Homo sapiens: one gene and its partners. The protein of the gene in region 1 interacts with the protein of each later gene in a pairwise test. Each region holds a gene or a part of one and is shown in the gene's direction. Other genes may lie near its edges.

What was found.
Region 2: the proteins of TMEM45A (region 1) and TMEM19 interact in binary tests that used the Homo sapiens proteins (3 or more experiments, as listed by UniProt).
Region 3: the proteins of TMEM45A (region 1) and PLN interact in binary tests that used the Homo sapiens proteins (3 or more experiments, as listed by UniProt).
Region 4: the proteins of TMEM45A (region 1) and ERMP1 interact in binary tests that used the Homo sapiens proteins (3 or more experiments, as listed by UniProt).

The regions. Positions count from the first base shown.
Region 1 is NC_000003.12:100,551,610-100,558,638, forward strand, and holds part of TMEM45A (transmembrane protein 45A), read left to right. Parts: intron 1-2,756; exon of another isoform or gene 2,757-2,846; intron 2,847-3,599; coding exon of another isoform or gene 3,600-3,602; coding exon 3,603-3,792; intron 3,793-5,150; coding exon 5,151-5,363; intron 5,364-6,795; coding exon 6,796-6,980; intron 6,981-7,029.
Region 2 is NC_000012.12:71,682,108-71,689,081, forward strand, and holds the start of TMEM19 (transmembrane protein 19), read left to right. Parts: upstream 1-3,974; 5' UTR 3,975-4,573; coding exon 4,574-4,703; intron 4,704-6,974.
Region 3 is NC_000006.12:118,543,794-118,551,301, forward strand, and holds the start of PLN (phospholamban), read left to right. Parts: upstream 1-4,502; 5' UTR 4,503-4,599; intron 4,600-7,508. UniProt on the Homo sapiens protein: Reversibly inhibits the activity of ATP2A2/SERCA2 in cardiac sarcoplasmic reticulum by decreasing the apparent affinity of the ATPase for Ca(2+).
Region 4 is NC_000009.12:5,795,104-5,802,132, reverse strand, and holds part of ERMP1 (endoplasmic reticulum metallopeptidase 1), read left to right. Parts: intron 1-804; coding exon 805-957; intron 958-3,124; coding exon 3,125-3,327; intron 3,328-4,200; coding exon 4,201-4,316; intron 4,317-7,029. UniProt on the Homo sapiens protein: Within the ovary, required for the organization of somatic cells and oocytes into discrete follicular structures.

The DNA.
Region 1 (7,029 bases):
AGAGTGAAGTAACGTTTGAGGATATGGACAATGTTTTCTTTCACAATGAAAATGAAATAAGATGAATGATGTTTTTATTGCCAGGAGTAACTGTATCTGTTGGGTTCCTTAGCCAGACAAATGTTAACAACCCTTATACTTTGACTTCATTTTGTTTGGATCTTTAAACAGAAAGATTGGAACCATCAGATTGTTTCAGATTAAAAGGCTGAAGACACAGGAGTTGTATAACTGAAGTAGGAAGGAGGACTCCTTTCTTTCCCCACTTTGATCAGCTCATATTCTTCTTCACAAACCCTCCACTATTCCCCATTGCCTCCTTATTACATCCTGATGGATGTGCTGAGATATACTGATCCTCTCAGCTTTGGGGGCAGCAGGAGCCTCTTAGCTTGTCATAGGGGTGGGTCAGGAGGGCTATTTGGCCTAGAGCTGTACATTCAGGGAAGGCCTGGATTTTAAAATTTCATCATATCTATGACATAGGCAATATGTTTGCTTGTATGTTTAAAGTATTTATTAGGTAATTCTAAATATTTAAAAGCAACCAAAATTTTTGTGACTCTGTTTTGGCATTTTCTTTCTTTTTTAATATACTAACAGCCTTAAAAAAAAAGTGGAGAAGGCCCAGGCATTTAACCTCTGAGGTGCCCCCATAGTCAGTTGCACAGGCTTTCATAATATGGTAATGGTCATAGAGGCTATTGAGGAGGACAGACCTTCAATAACTAATCATGCAAAGAAGTCACTAATGTGAGGACTGGGTGCCTTGAAAGGGTGTAATAGGGACCCTCCCCTATTTGGGCCATCAGGAAGGATTTCTCCAAGCAGGTGATCTCCTACCCCTAGAGGGGATCAATGTTAGACAACAGAGGTGATAAATCTCAATTACCAATTGTTTTTTAAGGAAAGAGCCAAACTCTAGGATGATGTTCATATTTTGGGTTTGGGCAAAGGGGTGAATTGGCAGTGTTGTTAACCAAACTAGGTAACCAGGGATTCTTTTAGGATAACTAAAATTATTTTCTGGCAGTAGGTGGGTTGATAAGATGATTAGTTCAGTTTTGGGGTATTTTGAGTGTGAGTGGCCTTTGAGACATCAGAGTAGAGATGTTTTGCAAATATATGATCTTGTGTTATGAGAAGAGCTTAGTAACTCCTTGTAAATTTAGAACCTCATAGTATGTAAGGCAGTGGATAGCCAGTGGGGAATAGAAAGAAGAATGGATATATGGCCTCTGCTTTCAAGGAGTTTATTCTCTAATTGCAGTCAAGGAGTTCAATAACCACAGATTATCCCAGTAACCCTCTAAGACAACAGCAAGAGAAGTGTCTTGGGCACTACATCAATGATTGCCAAATGAATTGTATCAATGTTTCTTGATTTTCTATATCCATCTTAGTATCTAAGTAAAATTGTTCATTTGGTTTTACTTTTGTTTTACTCTGGTAGTTAGAGGTAGGTTGAAGATAGCATGAGCTTATTTAACAGTACTGTGGGTTATTTGCTTTGGAGTAATTCATTTTAAATTTATGATGTAGGTACTGTTATTTGTCCCATTTTACAGAAGAGAAAACTGCGGCACTGAGGGGTTAAGTAACTTGCCCAAAGTTATGTAACTAACAAATTATAAAGTTGGTATTCGGACTTAGATAATCCAAATTCAAAGCCCCTTCCCCTAATTTTTAATCCTATTTTTTTAACTAAATATGTTCCCTATCATTTAAGTTATTTGAAAACCTTATTTTCAGTGGCTGCGTAATTTATTTGACATTCTCCTAGTGCTTGTATTTCCATTTATATTTGCAAGATAAATCCCTGCAAGTGGGCTTCCTGTACTAAGAAATATAAAATGTTTAAGACTTCTTAAACCAAATACAACCCATTTTCAGAAAAGTTCAAAAAATTTGCAGTCTGTATATACTTTTCAATCCCATATAGAAGTTTTCTCGATCCCATATGATTGCCTAAACCAAAACAGAACTCAGCAACACTGTGATAAAGGTGGTGGTTAAGATAATAAATCAAAGACTTTTAGGGCAGGAAAGAACTCCAGGTTTCATCTAGGCTTGCCTCCTTCTTTTATTAATTAAGATCCAAGGCTTAGAAAGGTTAAGAAACATGACGCAAACACACCATTACAGGTATAGTTAGGACAAGGACCTGCACATAGCACTATGTGATATATTGAGTCTGAGACTCTTGGATGGTTTGGACGATTCAATGGTGTCCTGAAATGACTGCCTGGGGTCACCACTGAGATATAAGAGACTTTTAGTGTTTGGGTCAGCTTCCAGGTTTCCCCCTGAGTTTCACAGTTGTATCAGAGGGATGGAAGTAACTCAAAAGGGTCTGTCCTGAACTGAGCAGCCCATTATCACCTAGAGATAAAATAAATCTGCTGGGCCAGGGGAAATCCTGAAATCTCCTTTCATGAGTTTCCTTGGACCTGGCCTAGTGTCAGATCCACAAGGGTGATTCTGGACTCTCTTTTCATTATTCTGTTGATGGTATGATATGTTTCAACAAAGGGCTACTCACGTAATTAAAAACTCACATAATTCTTTTTTTTTTTTTTAATAGCAGGGACCAAAAATGGAGGGTATTACTGTTTATTAACCAGAAGTGACTCCACTATGTGGCAATAATGTAAACAAAGTTTGCAATTTGATTTGGCTTGATATCTGGCTAGGTGGGGCTAAGGTGTTTTAACAGTAAATCTCAAAGTTTCATTGCCTTAGCACAATAAGGGATTGTTTCTTACAAAATCTGAAGCAGGCTGGTTGATCACCTTCTGGGTTGCAGATATGCCACACCAAGGTTGCCCAGGCAAGATAAGAGAGAGGTAAAGGAGTTGTGTAGACTGCTAACTGACCCTGCTTGGAAAGTGACATGTGCTAGTTCAACTTATAGTGTATTAGCCAGAACTAAAAACATGGGCCCAATCTAACTGGAGGGAGAGGCTGGGAAAGAGTGGGGAGCAGCACACAGATATTTGATGAACACTAATTGTTTCTTCCATACACTTGATGCTTGATATTTTGAAATTATCAACCTAAAAGAATGTGTAGGCAATTTCACATCATTTCAAGTTTTAAACATAAAGATAAAACTTTCATATCACTTTCCTTCAGATAGGCCTGAAGGGCCACTGTATGGCGAAGTATATACTGTGGATGTGAAGAAATCCTTTTCATTTCTGTGTTAAAAATAATGGAACTTTTGCTTAATATTTGTGAGATTTGGGCAAGTGGTCTAACCTCTCTAAATGAGGATCCCTAAAGAAAAAGGGGTAACAGTGCTTCATTCATGGGTATGTTGCATAAATTAGGTTGAAGACTGAACATAAAACACTTGACACAGTGCAGAGTACATGGTAAGTATTCAACAAATGTGAGTTTTTATTTTGTTTTTATTGGTATTATGATATTGTACTGGTATTTACTAGTATGCACAGTAATGTAGGATCCTCAGAATCATCCTCAGTGATGTATCCATAATAATCAGAAGACAGTGTACTTTATGGAAACAAGTGATGTTTTGTCCAGATTCTGGCAATGAAATGTCTTTTACTTTCTGTGTGTTCTTATATTTGTAGATCATGGGGAATTTCAGAGGTCATGCCCTCCCTGGAACCTTCTTTTTTATTATTGGTCTTTGGTGGTGTACAAAGAGTATTCTGAAGTATATCTGCAAAAAGCAAAAGCGAACCTGCTATCTTGGTTCCAAAACATTATTCTATCGATTGGAAATTTTGGAGGGAATTACAATAGTTGGCATGGCTTTAACTGGTGAGTGGACCATTCTGTGTTCTATTTTTACCTTTTAGGTGTTTTCATTCTTTTAAAGAATTGGTTGGAGCTTCTGAAATAATTTTATATCAATTGTTCTGATCTCTGAAAGAATAAACCCTATCAAAAACCATTTTGCAAATGATATGAAATTAATCAAGTTATTATGGAAAAGCTTCAGTAATAAATAATTTCTGATAGGCTGTAGAAGACTTTAGCCTTCTGCACTCATCTTTTTTTCTTGGTTCCTAAATTGGAGAAAGAGATTAGGCCAGATGACTTCTAAGGCCTTTCCACTGAATCTTCCATATGAAGATTCAATGAAAATGTTCTGTGTTCTTGAGAGTTCCACTCTAGCCTCTCCATTATAAAAGATAAAATTTCCAGTTTTCCCATTAGATTTCTTCATGCTTTATTCATGGCAACAGGTCTTTGCTATGGCATCAAATTACACAGTAACATTTCCAAAGAGGGAAATTTCCTTGCCAAATTCTATAGATTAACAAATAAGGCAGTATCTGTAGGAAAGTTTAACTGTTTGCATACCAGACTAGATCGTCTGCTGTATCTGTCTGGGCTTTCTTTTTTCCTTTTTTCTTTTGAGATGGAGTCTCGGTCTATTGGCCAGGCTGGAGTGCAGTGGCATTATCTTGGCTCACTGCAACCTCTGCCTCTGGGGTTCAAGCAGTTGTGCCTCAGCTCCCAAGTAGCTAGGATTACAAGCACCTACCACCACACCCGGCTAATTTTTGTATGTTTAGTAGAGATGGGGTTCCACCATGTTGGCCAGGCTGGTTGCGAACTCCTGACCTCCAGTGATCTGCCTGCCTCGGCCTCCCGAAGTGTTGGGATTATAGGTGTGAGCCACTGTGCCCAGTCCTGTCTGGGCTTTCTCAGTTATCATAATTGGAGAAAAGCTGAACTCTTTAGCATTTTTATCTGGTACCAAGCACAATCCCCTATTTTATGGCAGCTACCCAAAGATGTAGTATTTAAGAAGGAAGTAATCTATCTCCATAGGAGTTGTCTCCCAAATTCAAATCTCCAAATAATTCAGGATGTATCTCAGTCATTAGATTGGAATAGGCAGTGGAACTAAGATCATTGGCATTGAAGATCTGAAATAGCTGTTTGATTCAATTGGCTATCTTTGACTAAAACTATTTATTTGAACCAGCATCTGAACCTCCAAAAGAAGCCTAAAGTGCCAGTGCTCAGCTGTTAGGGAACAGCTCAGAGAGAAGAATTAATGTCAAAAGAGGACATTAGATTGGAATAAGCAATGGACTAGTCCTCCTGCATCTTCTTGAATTCTATGTAAAGCAGAGTTGCTAAAACTGTGATATGTTTCTTGGCAGGCATGGCTGGGGAGCAGTTTATTCCTGGAGGGCCCCATCTGATGTTATATGACTATAAACAAGGTCACTGGAATCAACTCCTGGGCTGGCATCATTTCACCATGTATTTCTTCTTTGGGCTGTTGGGTGTGGCAGATATCTTATGTTTCACCATCAGTTCACTTCCTGTGTCCTTAACCAAGTTAATGTTGTCAAATGCCTTATTTGTGGAGGGTAAGTGTTAGTGAGTATTTTCATGTACCTTTCTCTATTAGTGAGCATTTATGTAGCCCTTCATATTAATATACCTCTGGCATCTTGTTGCAGCCTTGATTGATAGGACCATATATCTGGGCCATAATGAAATATTTGGGTGTCCTAGGCAGGGCGCCAAAAATCTACATGCTGTACTGACTCATTTAGTAGAACTGGGTAAACACAATTGTTCAATTGCTATGTTCACATTTCACATCTGTCTCAAAGGACCACTTACAAAGGTTACTCATCTCTGGGTTGTTCTGAAGATTATCATTTTTTTTCACTTTTAACAAACGAAAACTGATCCCAGAATAATAAAGCATGAATACACTAAAATGAGGCAGCCACTCACAGTGGAACAGCTTCCACTATCTACTAACAGGCTTTTTCATATTGATACAGTAATACTCTGCCATTTGATGATAAGTAGGGTCCAAAAAATGCAGTCACATAAAAAATATGGGGTCCTAATTTTGGAAAGTTAATTAAAAACAATATTTTTTGTTCAGCTGGTCTCCCAGTTACTGTAGGGAGGAAAAAAGAAAACAAGCATTTAATGGTTTTTTTTTTTTCATGTATTACACACGTAAAAAATAGATTGATTATGGAAATAGATAACCACAAATTGATCAGGAGGCAGTCACTTCCTACTCACCTTGCCTCTGGCATCCAAAGATGAGAACTTTTGCCCATACCTCGGGAACAAGGGCTGGATAAAAGATGGATGTCAACAACTAATAGCCCGGTTCTCATTATCTCAGGGGGTTACCGTATTTTTGTATCAATCTTTTCTCTTTGTCTTCATGAAAAAGATGAAGCTGGAATCTGTCTACAGGATGAAGAAATGCAGTTATTTACTACTTCTTGGGAGCTTCCAGAGCATGTTGTTATATCTGTCAAAATCCACCCGTATGTGTTTGCTTCCTCCAGTGGACTGAATTCCTTAAGGCGATGCTTTGACTTATTCATCTGTGTGCTCATCTGAATTATTGCACTTGCCATGCTTACTGTTGTTTGTCCTGCTTAGAAGATGCTTTGAAATATTTTCATCTTATGGAGATTCCAACTTCGTCTTAATCCTTTTCATTTAGATAAAGAGGAAAAGATATTCATTCAAAAATACAGTTAACACCCTGAGATAATGAGAATCCATTCATTGAAAATGTCACAATGTGTTAGAGAGAGAATAAAGGTCAGGGAAAGCAAAAAGAGGGTTCAATTTCAAAGATCCTATTCTAATGAGGTGGTGATGTCTCCAAAAATGCAGTACTGTGGGAATCAGTGGGCGCCTGCTCTTTTGGACAAATGTGTGTATGTGTAAAATTCTGTCTACGGAGAGAGGGAGAGAGAGAAACAGTGGGTGGTCCTTGGTTCCACTGAAAAAGACAATCTGTTTTTTCCCCATCAGCCTTTATCTTCTACAACCACACTCATGGCCGGGAAATGCTGGACATCTTTGTGCACCAGCTGCTGGTTTTGGTCGTCTTTCTGACAGGCCTCGTTGCCTTCCTAGAGTTCCTTGTTCGGAACAATGTACTTCTGGAGCTATTGCGGTCAAGTCTCATTCTGCTTCAGGGGAGCTGGTTCTTTCAGGTGAGTTGGGGCCTCTAGTTAATGTACCTGGACTCTTTGCCTGTAACTT
Region 2 (6,974 bases), on another chromosome or scaffold:
CAAGGTTACTGGAAAACAGTATTCCATTTCTTTATTCCTGCCCTCAATTGCTCCCCACCCTCTCCCTAAGGCCCTTTTAGAATGAGCTCAACCTAATACAACAAATCCATCTTCAAATTGCTCCCTAGTCTTTTAAAATCTATACTACAAACATTTAAAAAACAAAATATTCGGGTTTAATGTCAAGAAGGCATATACTGGTTGGATGCAGTGGCTCACACCTGTAATCCCAACACTTTGGAAGGCCAAGGCAAGAGGATCACTTATAGCCAGGAGTTTGGGACCAGTCTGGACAACACAGTGAGACCTCACCTCTATTTTTATATTAAAAATTTTTTAAAAGAGGTGTCTATTTCTCAGATGAATTTTCAGTTTAATAAATTATTTAGCAAACACTCCAAAATGTGTTATTTCTAACTCTTCTCCATTCTCTTGAACTTCCTATTTTCATGTTCTTTTTAACCACCAAACAAACCTTTACAAATTGCCCTTGTTTAGCTTAGTCACTGAGCAAACTCTTTGTCATCTTTCAATTCTTACCTTGGATGCTCCCCTCTCTTGTGTGACACCATCCCTAAACATACCAGAGTGACATAAGTGCTTTTCTCCTTGAGTCCTGTTTATATATGACTTGGATAAAGTCATCATCTTTTTATAATGTAATTGTCTACATGTCCATTTTCATCTGCTATGCTCCTTCACCACACATACACATGTGGTGTATGTGTGTTGGCACTCAAATCACTCAAATATTCGCACATTTCAGAAAATCTAAACCAATCCCTTTGAATTAGATTCAAAGGGATTGTAAATAAAATCTGATAATTTCCTATCACACAGTAAGTGCTTTTTGACATTAGGATAATTTTTGTGATTGGTATTGAATATAAATGTCTATCATAGAAAAATCCAAACTTTATATCAAAGAGCACTTAACCATAAATGGGTATTTATATTGTGAAATTTAAAGATCAGCGCAACAATGAACTTTCAGTTTATTCTATGATTGCTATAGTAAGTCTCAAACTGCATGTTTTCTACAGGAAATAAATCTGATGAAGACAATTAACTGTTGGAACCATTTAAACAAATGTGTTTGTTTCTTAACTTCTTAGAGTCATTAATAATACACTCTAACTATCCCATGTAGAGACAACATTTCTCAACCTTAAATTTGATCACAGGTATCTTTTGAGTGGTAGGGATGCCTACTAATAACAAAGAATAACTACTATTAAGTTAAAAAATATAGTTTAGGAAATGCCTAACCAGAAATTTTCCATTGCCAGAAAATGGCTTCCAAAGTAAATAGAAAAACAAAGACTTTGTTGAAATTTTTAAGATTGATAGTCTATAAAAATTGTAACAGTAAAATCGTGATTTTTTAAAAGTATACAAGAGCCCCTCCCACTCCCTTTATCCTTGGAGATACATTCCAACACCCTCAGTGGATGTTTGAAACCCTGGAAAATACCAAACCCTATATATACTATTTTTTTCCAATTCCTATATACCTATGATAAAGCTTAATGTATAAATTAGGCACCGTAAGAGATTAGGAGGAATACCTAATAATAAAATAGAACAATTATAACAATATATTGTAATAGAACTAAAATAAGGGCACTGTGATACTGCAACAGTCCATCTGATAACTGCAATGGCTCCTAAGTGACTAACAAGAGAGTAATGTCTATTGCATGGATGGATATGCTAGATAAACGGAGGATTCACGTCCCAGGTGGGATGGAGCTGGATGGCATGAGATTTCATCATGCTACTTTGGCATGCAATTTAAAACTTATGAATATTTCTGGAATTTTCTTTTTAATATTTTCGGATTGTTACCGGTGGAAGGTGTCCAGGTTCTTGGTGTTTTGAACAAAGAACTGGAAAAACACACAAGCAAAGCAAGGAAAGAATGAAGCAACAAAAGCAGAGATTTACTGAAAACAAAAGTACGCGCCACAGGGTGGGAACCATCTGAGCATAGGGGCTCAAGGGCCTCCTTACAGAATTTTCTAGGGTTTAAATACCCTCTAGAGGTTTCCCATTGGTTACTTGGTGTACACCTTATGTAAATGTAAATGAAGTACTAGCCCACAATCAGTCTGATTGGTTGTGAAAAACAACCAATTAGAGGCTGAAGCAAAGTTACAAAGTTACACTCCTACGCAAACGTCTGATTGGTTGCAGAAAGCTACCAAGCAGAGATACTTTCAATTTTCTATCTGCCACGCAGAAAAAAAGAGGGGTTTGCAAAGGGCGTAGCTTTGGGTCCTTTTGTTACTTAGGTATGGGAAGTTGGGGTTTTCCTTTTGATTTAGCTCTAGGAAGTCAGCATGAATCGGCCTTAGGTTCCCTGCCTCAATAGGAGACCCTATTCTCCTGCCTCAAGATCATGTTTAACCCTTGGTAACTGAAACTGCCTATTGCATATAAGAACTACTGTATTTTAATTATATTAACTCCTCTAAATTATTTTGGTCTTAAGCTAGAATAACTTTTATGGAGAAAAACATCTATAATTGGTCACTGAAAAAAATAGAAGGGAAAATATTCATCTAAAGGGTCAGTTCACTGACACTACTATTTAATATGCATTTTTTAGCCAGATCTAATAGTCATGAGAAAATCATCCCTGACATCCAGGGACTGACCTGACACAGCTACACCACAGTGTTGGGAGATAGCTTGACATTCACAACTAGGCTATGATTTTCCTATCGAACACCAACTAATCAGAGAGGGTCACTCTGTGACTGTGGTGAAGCAAGGCAAAAAAAAGAAAAAAAAAAAAAAGACCAGTTTATAATTTTGTCTAAGCAGAGACAAAAACAATGCGACTGTGCAAACCACAAAACATTAGCTTTCATTATTAATAATTTTACCCAGTAGTCTGGTAACATTGATACTGGCCAGTCAGCTTGGTGAAATAATCCAAACATTTACCTATGCAGAACAGACTAAGACAAAAATAAAGTAGGCACATAATACATTTCAGCATAAAGACCATATATGTATATTATCTAGTACAGGAAGCCCACTACTATTTAGTCCTACTTCACAGATTTGATTCTTAGTTAACTACTTAATTAGATGTCTTACCAAAGAAAATGACAAGCTGTCTTGGCATGTATTTTGAAATTTAAAATAATGTGAGCTTTTTTAAAGTAACTACTCTTGGGGCTTAAAACACAATTGCATACTGTGTCTGAAATGGATTTGGCTCCTCTTCTTACACTGTCAGCAATTAACTGAAAAAATTGATAAATATTATGTAATTATCAGTTAATTACTGTTAACCCAGGCAAACAAGTTAATTTCACATAAAACATGAAATCAGGCCGGGCGCTGTAGCTCACGCCATTAAACCCAGCACTTTGGGAGGCCGAGGTGGGTGGATCCCCTGAGGTCAAGAGTTCGAGACCAGCCGGGCCAACATGGCAAAACCCCGTCTCTACTAAAAATATAAAAATTAGCCGGGCGTGGTTGTGGCGCCTGTAATCCCAGCTACTCCGGAGGCTGGAGCAGGAGAATCGCTTAGAACCTGGGAGGCGGTGGTTGCAGTGAGCAGAGATCGTGCCACTGCACTCCAGCCTGGGCGGCAGAGAGAGACACTGTCTCGAAAAAAAAAAAAAGAAAAGAAAAGAAATCAGCCACGATTCAGATTTTTAATGCTAACAAGACGTTTTGCTTTCTAAATGCACACACCTTTAATATAAGGGGTGTGAGGACAGATATTTCCACAATCTAAGTGGTGTTATGACAATAATTACGAGAGCTCAGTAATAGAAACTATGTTTAACTTTACCTCGCTAGCAGCCAGGAGTCTAGCACATTATAGGTACTAAACAATGTTGTTTAGTACCTATAATGTGGTTTTGGAGAAGCAGTGCAAACGCAGCCGGCCAGGATGCCAGCAGTGCCTGCCCACGTGAGCTAGGCGACATCCCCCTAAGCGGCTGCGGCGCATGCCCACAGCGGGCGAGGCGCTAGAGGCGGGGGCGCCGGGAGGCGCGGGCTTTGCTCCTGGGGTCTCGGCCTTGGCCGGCTGGACCTGACCCTAGGGCGGCTTGCGCAGCTGTCGGGACGTGACTGCGTTCAGCCGCGTCGGGCGTGCTTCCCAGACTTGCCCAAGTTCGGGTGCCCTAGCTGCCCCTTTGCAGCCGCTGGCCTACCCGGCCCGCGGGTGAGAAGGTTGCGACGGGAGGTGGGTGGAACTCGCCAGCGCCGGGACCGCGGATTGGCTGCCTCGGCTTTCTCTTTTCCCCGTGGGCTCCGGCGTGAGGCGCTGAAGCGGCCGGCAGCCGGCGACCGGCCCTCACCGTCCGCCGGGTTGCGCTCTGCTTTTGCGGTGAGGCGTTGACCACGCCCATATGAATTGGAGCTCTCCGCCAGTAGGAGTTTCCGGAAGGAGTTTGAATTTTTGTGATTTTTATGCTTGTTTGGTCGGTGGAATATGTTGGGATTTATGTTTGCCTCTGAACAAGTGTCTTGCTCACATCGTAAATGACTTTCTCTCCGAAACGCTAAATATTCTTTCCCGCAGGAGCTCATATCCTTATTTTCCATGACAGATCTTAACGACAATATATGCAAAAGATATATAAAGATGATAACTAATATAGTTATACTGAGCCTGATCATTTGCATTTCGTTAGCTTTCTGGATTATATCAATGACTGCAAGCACCTATTATGGTAAGTCTGAGTGTTCTAAGTTGTTTCTCTGTAATCTAGTCAGAGGAAATTAAAACCATACCATTGTGAAATCCAAAACTCATATCCTCTGAATGGTTATGAATGGTTGTGTTTACTTAACTTCCATAGCCTGATTTAACTTACTAACATGATAGTATAAACAATGCCTTTAATAAATGCTTGTTGTGATAATTCGAGTTATACCTATTTCTTTTTTTTTTTAATTTTTATTTTGTATAAGATAGGGGTCCCTCTGTGTTGCTAGGCTGGTCTCAAACCCCTAGGCTCAAGTGATCCTCCCACCTGTGTCTCCCAAAGTGCTGGCAATACAGGCCACCACTTCTGGACTAGTTACACCTATTTCAAAATGTCTTTATATTTTATGTAACTATTCCATCTGTCTTGGTAAAAGATAAGTGAGGCGAATATAGCTTTGTAAAGCAATTACAGTGATGCTTTTAATTTTGAATAAGAATATTAGTAATGGGCCAGGCGCGGTGGCTCACGCCTGTTATCCCAGCACTTTGGGAGGCCGAGGCGGGCAAATAACCTGAGGTCGGGAGTTCAAGACCAGCCTGGCCAACACGGTGAAACCCCAGCTCTACTAAAACTAGAAAAAAGCTGTAATCCCAGCTACTTGGGAGATGGAGGCAGGAGAATCACTTGAACCCTGGAGGCGGAGGTTGCAGTGAACCAAGATTGAGCCACTGCACTCCAGCCTGGGCCACAGAGCGAGAATCCGTCTCAAAAAAAAAAAAGTAGTAATGTAGTTTATCAGTTTCACATGTTCTGTAAAAATAATAAGAATTAAAAACGGTATACTATTTACATTTGGAGAGCTGAAGGACTTATCTGCCATTTGGTTGCTTCAAAAGAATAGACTCCTTTTAAAGCCTAAAGCTACATTGCTTAAATATAAGGTACTCTGGACTCAGATCTTTAAAGTTTTAAAGGTGCTTTAGAGCATAAGCCTCCATTTACACAAACTTCCTTCTCCTATGAAAACAAAATACTGGTCAGTTTGCAACAAAGGAAAAATGAAAAGGAGAATGAGAATGCTTGTATCGTAAGGGATTGCCATTTCAGACTGTAGGCTTTTTGCAAAGAGACATGTGAATAGTTGGAAAGGGTTCTCCAGGCTACAGAAGCTCTCAGTGCAGTTCGTTCATAATGATTCACAGTGGGGCATCAGAGTTTTAGGGGAGGGGTGTAAGAAAAGATTCTTGTTAGTGACAGTATTTACTATGACTTGAACTAAATGGAATAAATCAGGATTTGTAAACTGAAATATCCCTCTGGGGCCAGTCACCTAATGCAAATGAATCTGTGTACGTTTTTGTGTATTAGACCTGTGGTAATAGTTTTCATTTCCAGAAATAGGATATTTCTCATCTTTTGTTGAATGCTTGGGCCCTCTTTGTCTTTCATTTCCCCTTTATTTTTCTGAGACGGAGTTTCGCTCTTTTTGCCCAGGCTGGAGTACAGTGGCACGATCTCAGCTCACTGCAACCTCTGCCTTCTGGTTTCTCCTGCCTCAGCCTCCCAAGTAGCTGGGATTACAGGTGCCTGCCACCATGCCTGGCTAATTTTTGTATTTGTAGTAGAGACAGGGTTTCATCATGTTGGCCAGGCTGGGTCTCGAACTCCTGACCTCAGGATCCTCCTGCCTTGGCCTCCCAAAGTGCTGGGATTACAGGCATGAGCCACTGCGCCCGGCCCATTTTCTCATTTTTGATAGAAACATAGATACAAGCAGTGGTTCACAGTTTTCTTTACCATAAGGAAATCACTTTGCCTTGGCGTTTAGGAGCCTATCAGGAGGGGTGGGAACTTTAAATGGGAAAGCCACGGCCTGTTTAAAGGAGGGCACCTCTCTTTACCTTAAGTCAATTCTGCCATGTTGGCCAGAACTTCCCAATTTTAAAACAGAAGCCAAGAATCTGGATTTTTATATGATATCTCCTAATCTTTAAATATTGACTAAAATTATTTGAAAACACTCTGCTAGCCAAACATCTGTGAGCTGGATGCAGCCTCTGGAATAATCAATTTCTAACCATTGAATGAGGTGTCTGTCCTCTGACAGGCAGAGAGGAGTAAGATCCTGTTACAAAAAGAGTTCGTTCTAGGTAGTCCTTGAAATTTAATACGTGCCCCCTTTAAAAAAAATGAACCAGAGGTTCATTTTAAATATCTAGATATCCATTATTATCATAAATAGCAGTAAAAGGTTTTCAAAACTTGGACATAACCTATTTGGCCATTCTCCAG
Region 3 (7,508 bases), on another chromosome or scaffold:
GAAAGAGAAATCAATAAAAAGTTCTCAGCATGTGAATGACAATCAAATGTGCACTTGGATATCAGAGTAAAAACTGAGTAGGAAAGAGTCACAACGAAGGGTAGAAAAACTAGTTAATAAACGTCTATGAAAGTTAAGAGGAGAGTTGGTCAGGCTATGAGAACAAAGACATATTTCACAATCTGCATTTGGTTTCTAAGTGAATGGGGAGTCTGGCAGAAGACAGAAAAGGTATGAGCCTCCAATTTCAATTTTGTATCAAAATCAGTGATAGTGCCACCACAAAGTTTGCGAATGCGAGGAGCTCAAAGGGCTGAGATATCAACCACAAAGATAAGAAATTTAATATGTCTGGAGAAATACTACAATCATTAAATTGAAATAGAACCTTCTTAACAATGTAACAGCATCATGATCGGGACCCTATAGAATTTTGAAGCAAGTATTTGGAGACCTAAGGGTTGGTTTTTGTTGTTAAATTTGTTTTGTGATGTATGTGTTTCCCTTTGTTATTTTTGGCTTTGGTTCTGTCCGTTTCCTTTGTACAAAACATGCACTTCTCTTAGAAGTCATACTGCTTATTATTACACGTGCTCATTTGACTCTCAATTGGGAATTTCTTTTTCTCCTGGTGTTATCTTGCACTAGTGGTTACCTTCTAAATGTTAAATTTTCATTTCCATATTATTTGTATACTGATAAACCATAATTTCCTTGAAGCCACGTAGCATGCTATAGCATTTCTATCACTTAGAATGTTTAATAACTTTCCAAAATTTATGTAGACCTATATGAGTCCTTTTCTTAATCCATCTGGCCTCTCTTAATGTCAATGCTCTTCTCCACCCCTCATCAAGATGAGGAAAGAGAATTTGCCCAGAATTCAGATATTTATGAAAAAATAAAATGTTTGGGTCTCCAGGTTATCTGGCAAATCAAGTGAAAAGTGAACCTACCTCCCCCAAATGACCCCTAAGCTTTATAGGTTACTTTATCACTGGGTTATATCAACAGCCCCCCAACTCCAGTTGATGAGTAAATCTTATTTTCTTTTCCCTATTGCCCTATGGAGAGAATTTCCATCCTCTCAATCTCAGACCACTAATTCTTATTCGCAGTTTTGCTTAGATGTTTTTTGAACCAGTCCTTCCCTACGTAGCTTTAAAATTTAAGGCAGTAATTATCAAACCCTCAAGTACCCTCAAGAGATAGGTAAAATCTTCTTCCTGGGTGTCTAGGAGATCTAATCTAAAAAAAGCTCCTTATCTTTGATGTATTGTGAACATTACAAAAATTGATTCAAAGCTTGCATTTTACTGTATCTCTGTCTAAATATTAAAATGCTTTAATTTAGTCATCACTTATATTAACTTCTGGTCAAAAATTTCCAAAAACCGATTCTATTTTGAAGCTTCTTCGCCCTCCGGATACACCACTACAGACTGGAGTTTAAATGCTCAATGTAAAAGATTACTACATACATCACAGTGCCCTTCACAAAACGTTAGTAATATAGCTGGGCGCGGTGGCTCACGCCTGTAATCCCAGCACTTTGGGAGGCCGAGGTGGGCAGATCACGAGGTCAGGAGTTTGAGACCAGCCTGGGCAATATGGTGAAACCCCATCTCTACTAAAAATACAAAAGTTAGCTGGGCGTGGTGGCACACGCCTGTAGTCTCAGCTACTTGGGAGGCTGAGGCAGGAGAATCGCTTGAACCCGAGAGGGAGAGGTTGCAGTGAGCTGAGATCGCACCATTCACTCGGGGCTGAGTAACAGAGTGAGACTCCGCACCCCCTTCCAAAAAAAATTAGTAATACTTTTGAGGAACACATTTAAAATGCTACAAAACTATATAAAAACAAAAGTAAAGACATGAACTCATGATTCAGTTGAAACTGAATACTAAATTTCATTTAGAGCTTAGTAAAAATAAATTTGTAATTATTTTCCCATCCAAGTTCAAAGACACTTTACCCTTAAGAATCCACCTTCTAAAGGAAAAAAGAAAATAAGTGCTAACACTAAATGAACACTGTTGCAGGATCTCTGATAATCACTATGTACACTTCATGTCATTAAACCATCACAAATACTATTCCACAGATTAGGCTGCTTAGGAAAGTTATTTGTATAAAGCCATGTGACCAAAAATACATTCAAACTATAGTGTAACTCCAAATGAAGACTGTGACAAAGCACCTCAAAAAAATTTTCTAGCCTCTAGCTGAGGAATCATTGAGGAACACTCTACTGATAACACTATAACTCATTAATACTCCTATTAAACAACTTTCTGTTTGGGCAATTAAAAACAATGTTCAGTTAAAACTAAAATCTAATACTTCCTAGAGTTCCACATGAGATCATCACCATCATCGTCATCTTCACTAGCTAACCCAAAGGAACAAGGTAAACACAAAAACTCCCCACTCTTGTACCAATCTAAAAAGTAAATTTTTGAATCCATTTTCCAACTGTGTCACACACAGTTGTTAGTATCCTTCTAAGGTGTGTATATGCCTATGTATACTTTTTAAGTAAACTTATAAACATGTGGTAACTAGGGCATATTTTATTCTGTCTACGGCAGCTTCTTGGTTTATCCAACTAAGTATTACTAATTCTATTTTCTTAGAATGAGAAGTTCTCAGAACAATGATCTATCACCTAAATTTCAAATGAATGTGTAACTGGTAGACAAACTTAAAGCAGACTTTCTAAAACTATTAACAGTGCTCAAGAATGCATCTATTTACATCTTAAAAATTTCTCAGTTACTATATGCTACTCTAATGAAAGCTATATTCAAATTATAATTTTTTCCCACAGCATGCCAACAGATTAGGAATTATAAACAGACAGATCTGGATTTGAATCCTGTCTATTCTTTAGCAGCTGGTTATCTCTGACAAATTACTGTAAACCTCGTTAGGCTTCTCGGTTTTGTATTATCAATCATCATTGGTAACTGATAGTACTGAGAGATCCTCATTATGTAAGGATTGAAAGAAAAATGGTTGTAGCACTGAGAAAAGTATCAAACATTATTCTGCAATTTCCTTAACTTGGGTTTTACTTTTAAGTTGTAAATTTTCCCTTGGCAATGTTCACAGGATATCTTTGCTAAAATATTATTTTTCAGTTAGTTTTAAGCTGACTCTTTAAATATCAAATGATTTGCTCTAGAGATGGATTTTCTTTCTTTGGAAGAAGCCAAGATCATTTCCATTTAAGGGCATGTAAGCAGCTGCTGCTACACATTTTAGTTACCCATAAGAAAGTGAAGTGGGCTAAGTTCACTCTGTCATAAGCATTTAAAAAATTAAAAATTACAAGTACCTCCTCTAAAATTAAAGAAGAGATTTAAGAATTAATATTTTCGAGTGTGGTGACTTAAGTAAATCTAACATCTAAGACAACAAATTAGATAAACAGAGAAGAGGAGAATGATGCCCGGCTTTACAAAAAAATTATTTCCCCAGTTCTACTGTAAGATAAACTGTTCTAGGAAGTTCAAAATATCATCTCACTTACTAGCATCTCATTTTTATAGTAATTTTCAGGAAAGCAACTGCTAGATTAAATGAGGCACATCCTTTCAAAAACATTACAAAACTTAAATTTCAACACATCAAACCTATAAAGCCTCATTAACTGAGATGTAACTGATTTGGAATCTGTAATTATTTCTTTTTTGCCATAAAGTTGCCCTTAATACTGCATCAGTTTATTAAAAATTTGGTAAGATTGTGTAATAATTTAATGCAATTGTTTTTAAAAAATCTTAAATACTTAAAGTAGCATATTGCTATTTTGGGGGTGTTGTATGTATCAGTTTAAATATAAGTATTACTATTCACAAATATATTGTTAAACTGCTAATTGAAGAAAACACAAATGAATTAAATACATTTATTAGTTCTTTAACTGTAAGATAAAAATAATTTTTTAAAACAAAAAGCAATTAGCCTGATTTTCTCATACTCCTTCTCCCATACACACAAGAACAAGAACAAAATAAGAAAACAGGTATAAAATTTTATTGTGTAAAAATATTTCACTTTCACTAAAAGCTAACATTATGAAGACACGTATTAAAGCAACAGCAGCAAGAATTCAATGAAAGTTGTTTTGCTTATACCTGTGTTTATTTTTCTCATAATTAAAATTCCTGCAGTAACTATTTTAGCTCTTCAACATCTTCACCATTAATATTCAATTATCTCTAAGCCTGAAGATGCATGAATCTTTAACAAAAGCTTTCCACCACCTCAAGTTTACTTATTTTTTTCATTTATCTACCATATACTGTTTTAAATTAAAAACAAAAGATGAAGCACAAAGTGTTAATGACTTTTCCATACCTAAAGTAAGAAGTTCTAAAGTTTGGTTGTGATAAGACTGAGACTGTGGCTAACCAATCGAAACTTCAGAATTCCTATGTGACATCATAAGACCTCCCTAGAACACTTTTTCTCCTCCACCTACTGCAACTGTTCCCATAAACTGGGTGACAGAGTCAGAAAACTCCCCAGCTAAACACCCGTAAGACTTCATACAACACAATACTCTATACTGTGATGATCACAGCTGCCAAGGTAAGAAACAGATTTCGCTGACTTTGGTAATTCTTACTTTCTATAATTCTTAATTCCTATAATTTCTATAATCTGAACTTTTAAAATGAGTTAATTTTATGAATATCAGTTCAATCTTAGGCAATAAAATGACATGACAAAGTGCTTAAATTTATAAATGCTTATCCATTTAGTGACAGGAAAAATGAGACAACTTTGAAATGAAAAAGGTCATATTCATCTTTGATCCTGGTTACTGGTTTGTCATTTAAATTTATCTTTCACTTTTATTTTGCTTTTCAAATGTGAATTTCTGCCAATTAAAAAATCTTCCAATTATGTTACCATATTTGGTAGTAGTGGTTAATTTCTCCATGCAAAAACAATGACTTAATTTTGTTATTTATTGCTCTGCTGAGAAACAGTGCAGAACTGAGCTATTTACATCTGAACTAATATGAATAGTCATTTGACTACAACATGCACATTATCAGCATGCCTATTCCAATATTATCATAATTTCATACAGTGAATAATGAAATGGAGTTTCAGAATATATAATACAAGCTACTTTTAAAGTGCCCTTGAGGATGTTTCCCCTCTAAAGTCCAGTCAACTTTTAACAAACATTTCTAAAAAAATTCCATGCTATTAATAAATTGAGTTACTGATATTAAATTCAATATTGTATCATAAAGAAGTTTAGAAATTTTAAAACAATGTTCACAAACACAAAAAATCTGACGTTAGAGAATAATTTGATACTTTAAAAAGTTATTTTGACACACGAATATTCTTAACTATCTTATTTTCACACAAATTTGATTAAATGGATTTCTGCCTATTAATGCCTATAGTTTTGTCAAGTTATTATCCTCCAGTGGTACTCCATTTCCTCTCTCGGATTTAGAAAGAAAGGAAAAAATAAAATAAATGCCAGGAATGGAGATGCCACAATCAATTTTATGACTTCTGTTTGAATTCTACCCTATTCTTTATGTTACAATCCTCAATTTAGTAAATGAAACGTTTCCTCATTCTTAGATCTCTGTCAGGGCATACAGAAAATTACATATATTTTATTTATTTTGATTTTCATATTTCATATATATGTTAAAATAAAATTTATCTCTAAAATTCTCAATTCCTATGACAAATGTTAATTCTATTGCTCACTACAAATAAGAACTTTGTAACTCTGTAAGCAGCTTTCCTTAAGACATAAAAAAACATAATTTTTGTCTACCACTGAGGTATCCTAATTGTGTCTCCATATCTCTATACTCATATTTTTCCTTTGATAGTACATAAAAGTCATTCAGTGTAGGTGTCTTATGTTATTTGTGCATTTTTATTCAAATATCTATCAAATTACATTCTCACACTTCAAATTGGGTGTTCACGAGTTATTTTATTGTATCAGAATTTTGCTATATCACATATTACTCTAAAAAGTACACATACTTCTGGATAGAGCAGAAATTATATTAAACTTACCCTTAGCTCACTAGTATGTCTCAGTTAACAGAAATTACAGTTACAGAGACTGCTAAAATTTCAAATATAATGTGGTAGTACCATACATTGTGTCCCAACTAGTTCATCTATACCTTAAGGTGCAAGTTAAGTATTATCTTTGTTTATGAAGACATGTGGTTTCAAAGTAAGTGCTAAAAAAAGTGTTAGATGAAATCAAATGGAAAAAATATGAAAGATGTTTAAATTAAGAAGCATTAAGTTTTAAAAACGCATGAAAGAGCCAGAGTACTTGCTTTACTAAAAGGCGTGACAGCACTATCATTTCCTAAAACTCAAATATCAAATCCATTTTATTTGTATTTTAGTAGGCATAAAGGAAAATGATCACATTTGGGTATATAATCATATCTTTAATTAGTGAGATTAAGAAATAATAAAATATTGCATAAATACAATAGTTTCAGAAAATTTTAATGTATTTTAATGTTTTAATGTACTCATTACACATGTACACTAAATTATGTAATATATTAAATTTTTAATTAAAAAACCTAAAGTCTAGTTACCTCTCCAAATTAGACAATATATTACCAATCCCAGAAATGAGGAGGGCCAATGAACACTTCTTTTTTATTCTTAAAGAGCAATTTCCTAATATACTCGTGTACACAAATATTTCATTTGGTCCTCTTAATTATATATTTGATACTGCATCCCTATTCTACAATTTAGGAAAGATGCAAAAAGGTGAACTGCTCAAGATCACAGAACTAAGAAAACAGGGAAACCTTGGCAGAAGTTTAGGTTTTGTCACTAAGCCACATGCACATCCTCTATATACTGATCAGCATGGCTTAAAGTAAACCATGACACTGACAAACAAAATTTGAAAGCCCCCAAATACTGTAAATGATATTCTAAAAGGCAAAAGGCAAATTCAGAGAATACAAACTTCTATTTTAATTAAAAGCCATTCCACTCCATTTAAATTCAATTTATGCATAGCATTACATTCTTAATAGTCTAAATTATATTCTACTGATCATTTTCAAAACCAGAAATATACGAAAATTACAGATGCCCTTAGTTATTAAGCAATACCTCCTGGAAGGCAAAATTCAAACTAACTGCACAGACTTTAAAAAAAATAACACACCCCAATCAATCAAAGTTTCCTTTTATTTGTTTCATTGCTAAAATACTCATGCCTTCAATTCATCTGATACCTAAAATCCAAGTTAACATCTCCTCAAAACTTTCACAAAAATCACATTTCGATACTTTATTCTAGGTTCCCTAGAATCAAGTAGTCTCTTTGTACAATTTCAAAGTTCTTACCCAGAGTAATTCTGAAGCATGTGTTACCAAATAAACACATGAAAATGAAGCCTGGATGTACAGCATACTCATAGTCAACTGAGGACCTCTAGTGCCTTTGAAAAGGTACTCCA
Region 4 (7,029 bases), on another chromosome or scaffold:
TTTCTCTCAGTATTCACAATATTTAAAATGTGGCTTCTTAGAACAATTTCAGATTTCACATAAAAGTTTCCCCAAATGGCTTCTTCAGACCCTGTAAGGGATCTGTGGACATACTCTGTGAGTCGTGTGTGTCCTTTACAGTTTTTAGTTCAGCGATTTCATTACGATTGAAAATATTTAGGATTTTCTAGATGCCAACCTTGAGACTGAGTCATTTACATTTACTGCCTAGATTTATTGTTTTGATTGTGTTGGCATTGGTTAATTTGTCACTTAGAGGGATAATATTACTTTGTAATGCAGTTTTTCCTCTTATGCAGGTCCACTGGCAGAGTCTTGAAGGTACATCTCTATGCCAGTTGAGATGAATTTAGTATTTTGACATATTTTAAAGCATTATGAGTGGAATTTGAGTTTTGTCCAAACAGATCTGCCTAAGCTTAAAGCTTATCTCTGGTTATTTAATGAATAATCCATTACATCTACATTTCTGTTCTTTTCGCACATTAAGGACAGCGACAGTCCTGAGTTTCCTTTTTCCCTCTTGGTTTTTGGCTGCATGCCAAAAAGGTGGCACCATCATGGCAGATTGGAGGCATCTGTCATTTTCTAGGTTCTCACCTGCAATGGAAATCTCCTAGAGTTAGTGCTTTGTTTACTAGATGTTAGAGTATGCTAGCACCTGCTGATAAATTTTCTTCAGGGGCTGTTAGGTAATACTGTTAAAAATAAAGTTAGTTAAAAACACCTTTCCACCACTAGAATGAATTTGTAATATTTCTGTGTTTGTGGTTTGTGTTTCAGATTAACTTCATCTACCTTGCCAAGAGCACAAAAAAAACCATGCTAACTTTAACTTTGGTATGTGCAATTACATTCCTCCTTGTTTGCAGTGGAACATTTTTTCCATATAGCTCCAATCCTGCTAATCCGAAGCCAAAGAGAGTGTTTCTTCAGGTGAGCAGTTTTGCATGAGGTATTTGAGATCTGGAAAGGAAGCCCTGTGTGTTTTGAGCTTCAGTAGTGAATAGCAAGCGCAGCTGACTTTTCTGCTGTTGACCTATTTAGTCATACTCACCTTTTTTGTGTGTAAGGCAGTGAGGAGAAGACTGACTGTCAAGAGGCATTCTTATCAGCTAGACATATATCTCCCAGGAGACTGAATTGGAAATGTTTGCTTGTTTTTATTACTATTCAAATTATAAAACTGCATCTATTTGGAAAAACAGGAGCAAATATTTATTATGGAATAATGAGTTTTTAGAAATATAGATTGTAAAAATGTATACAGGCTGAGTAAAATCTAAACTGTCAACTGGCAAAATAAAATTGATGTTTAGAAGTGCTAGTAAAATTAATCTTAAGTAACATTCAAAGTGATATGTGATAGTGAAACTATAACTTAGAAAGGGTTTAATAAAGTGAGTTTTAGGACTTACTTTCTTTTCTCTTTTTTTAAAATGGAGTCTTGGTCTGTTGCCCAGGCTGGAGTGCAGTGGAACGATCTTGGCTCACTGCAACCTCTGCCCCCTCGGTTCAAGTGATTCTCCTGCCTCAGACTCCCAAGTAGCTGGTATTACAGGCGCTCGCCACCACGCCTGGCTAATTTTTGTATTTTTAGTGGAGACAGGGTTTCACTACGTTGGCCAGGCTGTTCTTGAATTCCTGACCTCAGGTGATCCACCCACCTCGGCCTCCCAAAGTGCTTGGGATTACAGGTGTGAGCCACCACACCTGGCCAGTTTGAGGACTTATTTTAGATCTCAACTTTTTCTTCAAATTTTTTAGACCTGGTACTATAAAGCAGTAAGCCTCAATTCTAGTCATCTCTGTTAGAGATGGCTAAATTGTTAGTTTTTCTAAATTGTTTTTAAAAGTTCTCATACTACACAAATTATCTTATGCCTTATACCCATCCCTTTCTCATGTTTGTGAACACATACTAACATATTGTATATTTTGCATAATTCTTATTTGTATTTTATACTCTGTAAGTGAAAGATCCTGCTTCAAGATAACATATACCCTTAAGGGCAAGAGTCACATCTAACCTAATCTAGCCAAACAGAAATGCCAGAGGAATTATACCTAGATAATTATTCAAGGACTTAAAAAATTAAAAACACTTAGGAGGTTTTGAAAAGGGGCCAAATAACAATTCCTTGTTATAGTCCTGAAGGACACTGTGATAAATTTTATGTGAGATTTTACAATTTGTAAAACCTTTAGTGAAGAACGGATTTTTTTTTAGGAGGTTCAGTGTGTTTTTCATGATGTATTAAGTTTTATAATTATGTCAGTAATACTTAGGAAAAGCAGGATTTTTATTTTTAAAAAGTCATTTTCTGATTTGTTTGGGGGTTCTCTTCCACTGTGCCAGAAGTTGGCAAACTTTTCCTGTAAAGGACAAGATAATATTTTGGGCTTTGTCAGCAATACAGTCTGTTGCAGTGAAACAGAGCGAAAGCAGCAACAGAGTATACCCAAACAAATGAGTGTGGCCATGTTCAAATAATGGTTCGTATATAAAAACAGTCAGTGGACAGTTTGCCCTGTTGGCTGCAGTTTGCCGGCTCCTGCCCTATGCAGTGTTTTTTTTTGTTTGTTTTTTTCCTGATTGGTATTCTTCAGGCTGGTTTCTGCCGTGAATAAAGTTATTTCAAATGGAGCACGGTGCCTTTTCATAGAATTCTGTTAGGCACAAGGCTGTCATCTAGTGGTGAGCTGCAATTCCCACTTTTCTCTGCACATGAATTAGCTTCATAAAACACTAATAGGGAAATGAGTGTGTATGTATATATGTGCTTAGGATGTATTTGTTTTAAATCCTTATCTAAAAGCAGCTCTAACATTAACGTCTTTTAAGTCTGAAATAGTAAGTTTCAAAAACATTTTATAGGAATCCTAAATATATTTGGAAGATACAATAAAACAATAATCTATATATCTATTTTCCAGTTTAAAATAAAGAACGCTAGCAGTACCTTAGAAACTCTCAGTGTCTTATTCACTTGCTCCATATCCACATCATTTCTTGGTATTGTCATACTCCATTTTTGTAATCTGGGGTGGGAATGTGGGTGTACTAGTTGAAACAGTTTTTTCACTAGTCTTTTTTTTTCAGCATATGACTAGAACATTCCATGACTTGGAAGGAAATGCAGTTAAACGGGACTCTGGAATATGGATCAATGGGTTTGATTATACTGGAATTTCTCACATAACCCCTCACATTCCTGAGATCAATGATAGTATCCGAGCTCACTGTGAGGAGAATGCACCTCTTTGTGGTTTTCCTTGGTATCTTCCAGTGCACTTTCTGATCAGGTTGGTTCATTATTTTTCTGCTTAAGGTTAGTTTGTTCTCAAGTCTTGTCACCATATCAGTACTCTTATCATTTAAACTGCCATCCTTTAATATACAAGTTCAGTGGTGTTTGTACTATTTTTTCTATCATTATGAAACTTTTTTTTTTTTTTTAGTGGAATAAAGCACTCAGAAGAGTAGTTTTGTTTTTTCAAATTTTAAAAATCTTTTCTCTAGAAACCTGAGTGGTTAGAAAAGGTGGCCCTTCTAACTAATATAATAGCCAATAAGCATCTATCTCAAAAATTGTGGCCGGGCACGGTGGCTCATGCCTGTAATCCCAGCACTTTGGGAGGCCGAGGCGGGTGGATCACCTGAGGTCGGGAGTTCGAGACCAGCCTGACAAACCTGGAGAAACCGTGTCTCTACTAAAAATATAAAATTAGCCGGGCATGGTGGTGCATGCCTGTAATCCCAGGTACTCGGGAGGCTGAGGCAGGGGAATTGCTTGAACCCGGGAGGTGGAGGTTGCGGTGAGCCGATATCGCGCCATTTCACTCCAGCCTGGGCAACAACAGCAAAACTCTGTCTCTCAAAGAAAAAAAAAAATTGTTTTCTCTGGGAAGATTTTATAGCTTGGCAGTGAAGGACTGGATGAGAAGAAATAGGATGGGTGGTGGAATCAAGATCACCTAGGTTACTCCTTTGTTCTTAACATTGGGAAGGTTTTATTACAAAATAACCTAAATTTGTTGGAGTTGGCATTGCTTATCATGTCTGTCAGTTTATTTTCATACCCAAAAATGTGTTCATATATGCTGAACAGTTCTGTGAGTTACAGATAGCCATCAAATAATAAAGCACCCTAAAACTGAAGCTTCCTTTCTAAATAGGAAAAACTGGTATCTTCCTGCCCCAGAAGTTTCTCCAAGAAATCCTCCTCATTTCCGACTCATATCCAAAGAACAGACACCTTGGGATTCTATAAAATTGACTTTTGAAGCAACAGGTAAGTCATATAATAGTTTTTTCTCCCCTCCTTTATTTCTTAAACTTGTTAATAAGTGGCATGTATGTTTTTCCCTCAGATATATCACAGGAACCAGCAACTTAGGAAGAGCCTGTGATGTTTCTAAAATCAATTGAAGCTGGTTATGACTTCTTTTTTTTTTTTTTTTGAGATGGAGTCTCGCTCTGTCGCCCAGGCTAGAGTGCAGTGGTACGATCTCGGCTCACTGCAACCTCCGCCTCCTGGGTTCAAGTGATTCTCCTGCCTCAGCCTCCTGAGTATTTGGGATTACAGGTGTGTGCCACCATGCCTGGCTAATTTTTGTATTTTTAGTAGAGACAGGGTTTCACCATGTTGGTCAGGCTGGTCTTGAACTCCTGACCTCATGGTCTGCCTGCCTCGGCCTCCCAAAGTGCTGGGATTACAGGTATGAGCCACCACGCCCGGCCAAAGCTGGTTATGACTTCTTAACAAAAATTTAATAGGCCAGGCATGGTGGCTTATGCTTGCTACTCAGGAGGCTGAGGTAGGAGGATTGCTTGAGCCCAGGAGTTCAAGACCAGCCAGGGCAACATAGTGACATCCCGTCTCTACAAAATTAAAAAAAAAAAAATTAGCTGGGCATGTTGGTGCATGCCTGTAGTCTTAGCTACTTGAGAACTTGAGAGGCTGAGCTGGGAGAATCACTTGAGCCCAGGAGGTCAAGGCTGATAGCACCACTGCATTCCAACCTGGGTGACAGAGCAAGACCCTGTCTCAAAAATAAAAATTATTTTTATTTTTTGGAGCAATGTTAAGTTTACAGAAAAATTAAGTAGAAATTATAGAGTTCTCATATCCTGCCCCCCGATTTTCCTCTATTAATGTCTTGCATTAGTATGGTGCATTTGTTAAAACTGATGCACCAGTTTTAACACTGATATATTATTATTAATCGAAGCCTGTTGTTCCCACTCGGGTTCATTCTTCGTGTTGTGTAGTTCTATGGGTATTGAAAAATGTGTGATGCCATGTATCTACCATTACAGTATCATACAGAATAGATTTACCATCTAGAAATGCCCTGTGCTTCACCTATTTATCTCTCTTTTCTTCCCACTCTCCTTAGCAACCATTGGTCTTTTTATTATCTCTGTAGCTTTGCCTTTTCCAGGTATCATATAGCTGGAAGCACAGAGTATGTAGCCTTTTTCGACTGACTTCTTTCACTTAGAAGTATGCATTTAAGGGATCCTCCATATCTTTTTGTGACTTGATAGGCCATTTCTTTTTATTGCTGAATAGTCCGTTGTGTAGATGTACAGCAGTTATCCATATTTGAATAAGGCTGCTATAAAGATTCCTGGGCAGGTTTTTGAACTCATTTGGGTAAATGCTTAGGAGTGTGATTGCTGGATATTATATATGGTAAGCCTATGTTTAGCTTTGTAAGAAACTGCCAAACTGTTCTTTCCATTGACTGATTTCTCTGTTCTTTTGCCCATACCACAACTGTCATGATCACTGTAATTATATAGTTAAGTTTTGAAGTTGGGTAGTATCAGTCTTCCAACTCTTCTTCTCCAGAATTGTGTTTTGTCTTTTGCCTTTCCATGTAAACTTTAGAATCAGTTTGTCAATATTCACAAAATAACTTGTTGGAGTTCTGATTGGGATTGTATTGAGTCTGTAGATCAAGGTGGGAAGAAATGATATTTTAACAATAATGGCTTTTCCTATCCGTGTTGGAATATCCCTCCATTTATTTTTATCTTGTTTGATTTCTTTCATCAGTTCTGTAGTTTTCCTTATAGAATCCTTATATATATTTTGTTAGATTTATTTTTAAGTAGTTATTTTTGGGGGTGCTAATGTATTAATAAATGGTATTGTTCATTGATGGTCTACAGGAAAGCAACTGAGTTTCAGATTATTACCCTCATATCCTGCAGCCTTGCTATAATCACTTATTAGATCTAGGAGATTTGTTTTTGTTTTTGTTTTTGTTTTTGTTTGGTTTATTCTTTAAGAAGATTTTCTTTTCTTTTTCTTTTTCTTTTTTGAGACAGTCTCACTCTGTCACCTAGGCTGGAGTGCAGTGGTACGATCTCGGCTCACGGCAACCTCTGCCTCCTGGGTTCAAGTGATTCTCCCGCCTCAGCCTCCCAAGTAGCTGGGAATACAGGCACCCGCCACCACACCTGGCTAATTTTTGTAATTTTAGTAGAGACAGGGTTTCACCACGTTGGCCAGGCTGGTCTCAAACTCCTGACCTTGTGATCCGCCTGCCTCAGCCTCTCAAAGTGCTGGGATTACAGGCGTGAGCCACCGCGCCCAGCCTATTCTTTTAAGATTCTATGAATAGACAATCTTATCATCTGCAGACAGTTTTATTTCCTCCTTCCTAATATCTATAATTTTTATTTCCACTTCTTGACTTGTTACATTATCTGGGACTTCTAGTTTGATTTTGACAAGGCGTTGTGAGAGGGGACATCTTTGCCTTGTTCCTGATCTAGGCAAGCTTCTGGTTTCTTACCACTGAGTATGTTGTTAGCTATACGTTTTTTGGTAGATGTTTTTTATGAGACTGAGGAAGTTCCCTCTATTCCTAGCTTACTGAGAGTTTTTATCATGAATAGGTCTTGGATTTTGTCAGTTGCTTTTCCTGCATATATTGATATGGGCATGTGATTTTTCTTTCTTAGCCTTTTGATGTAATAGATGACATTAA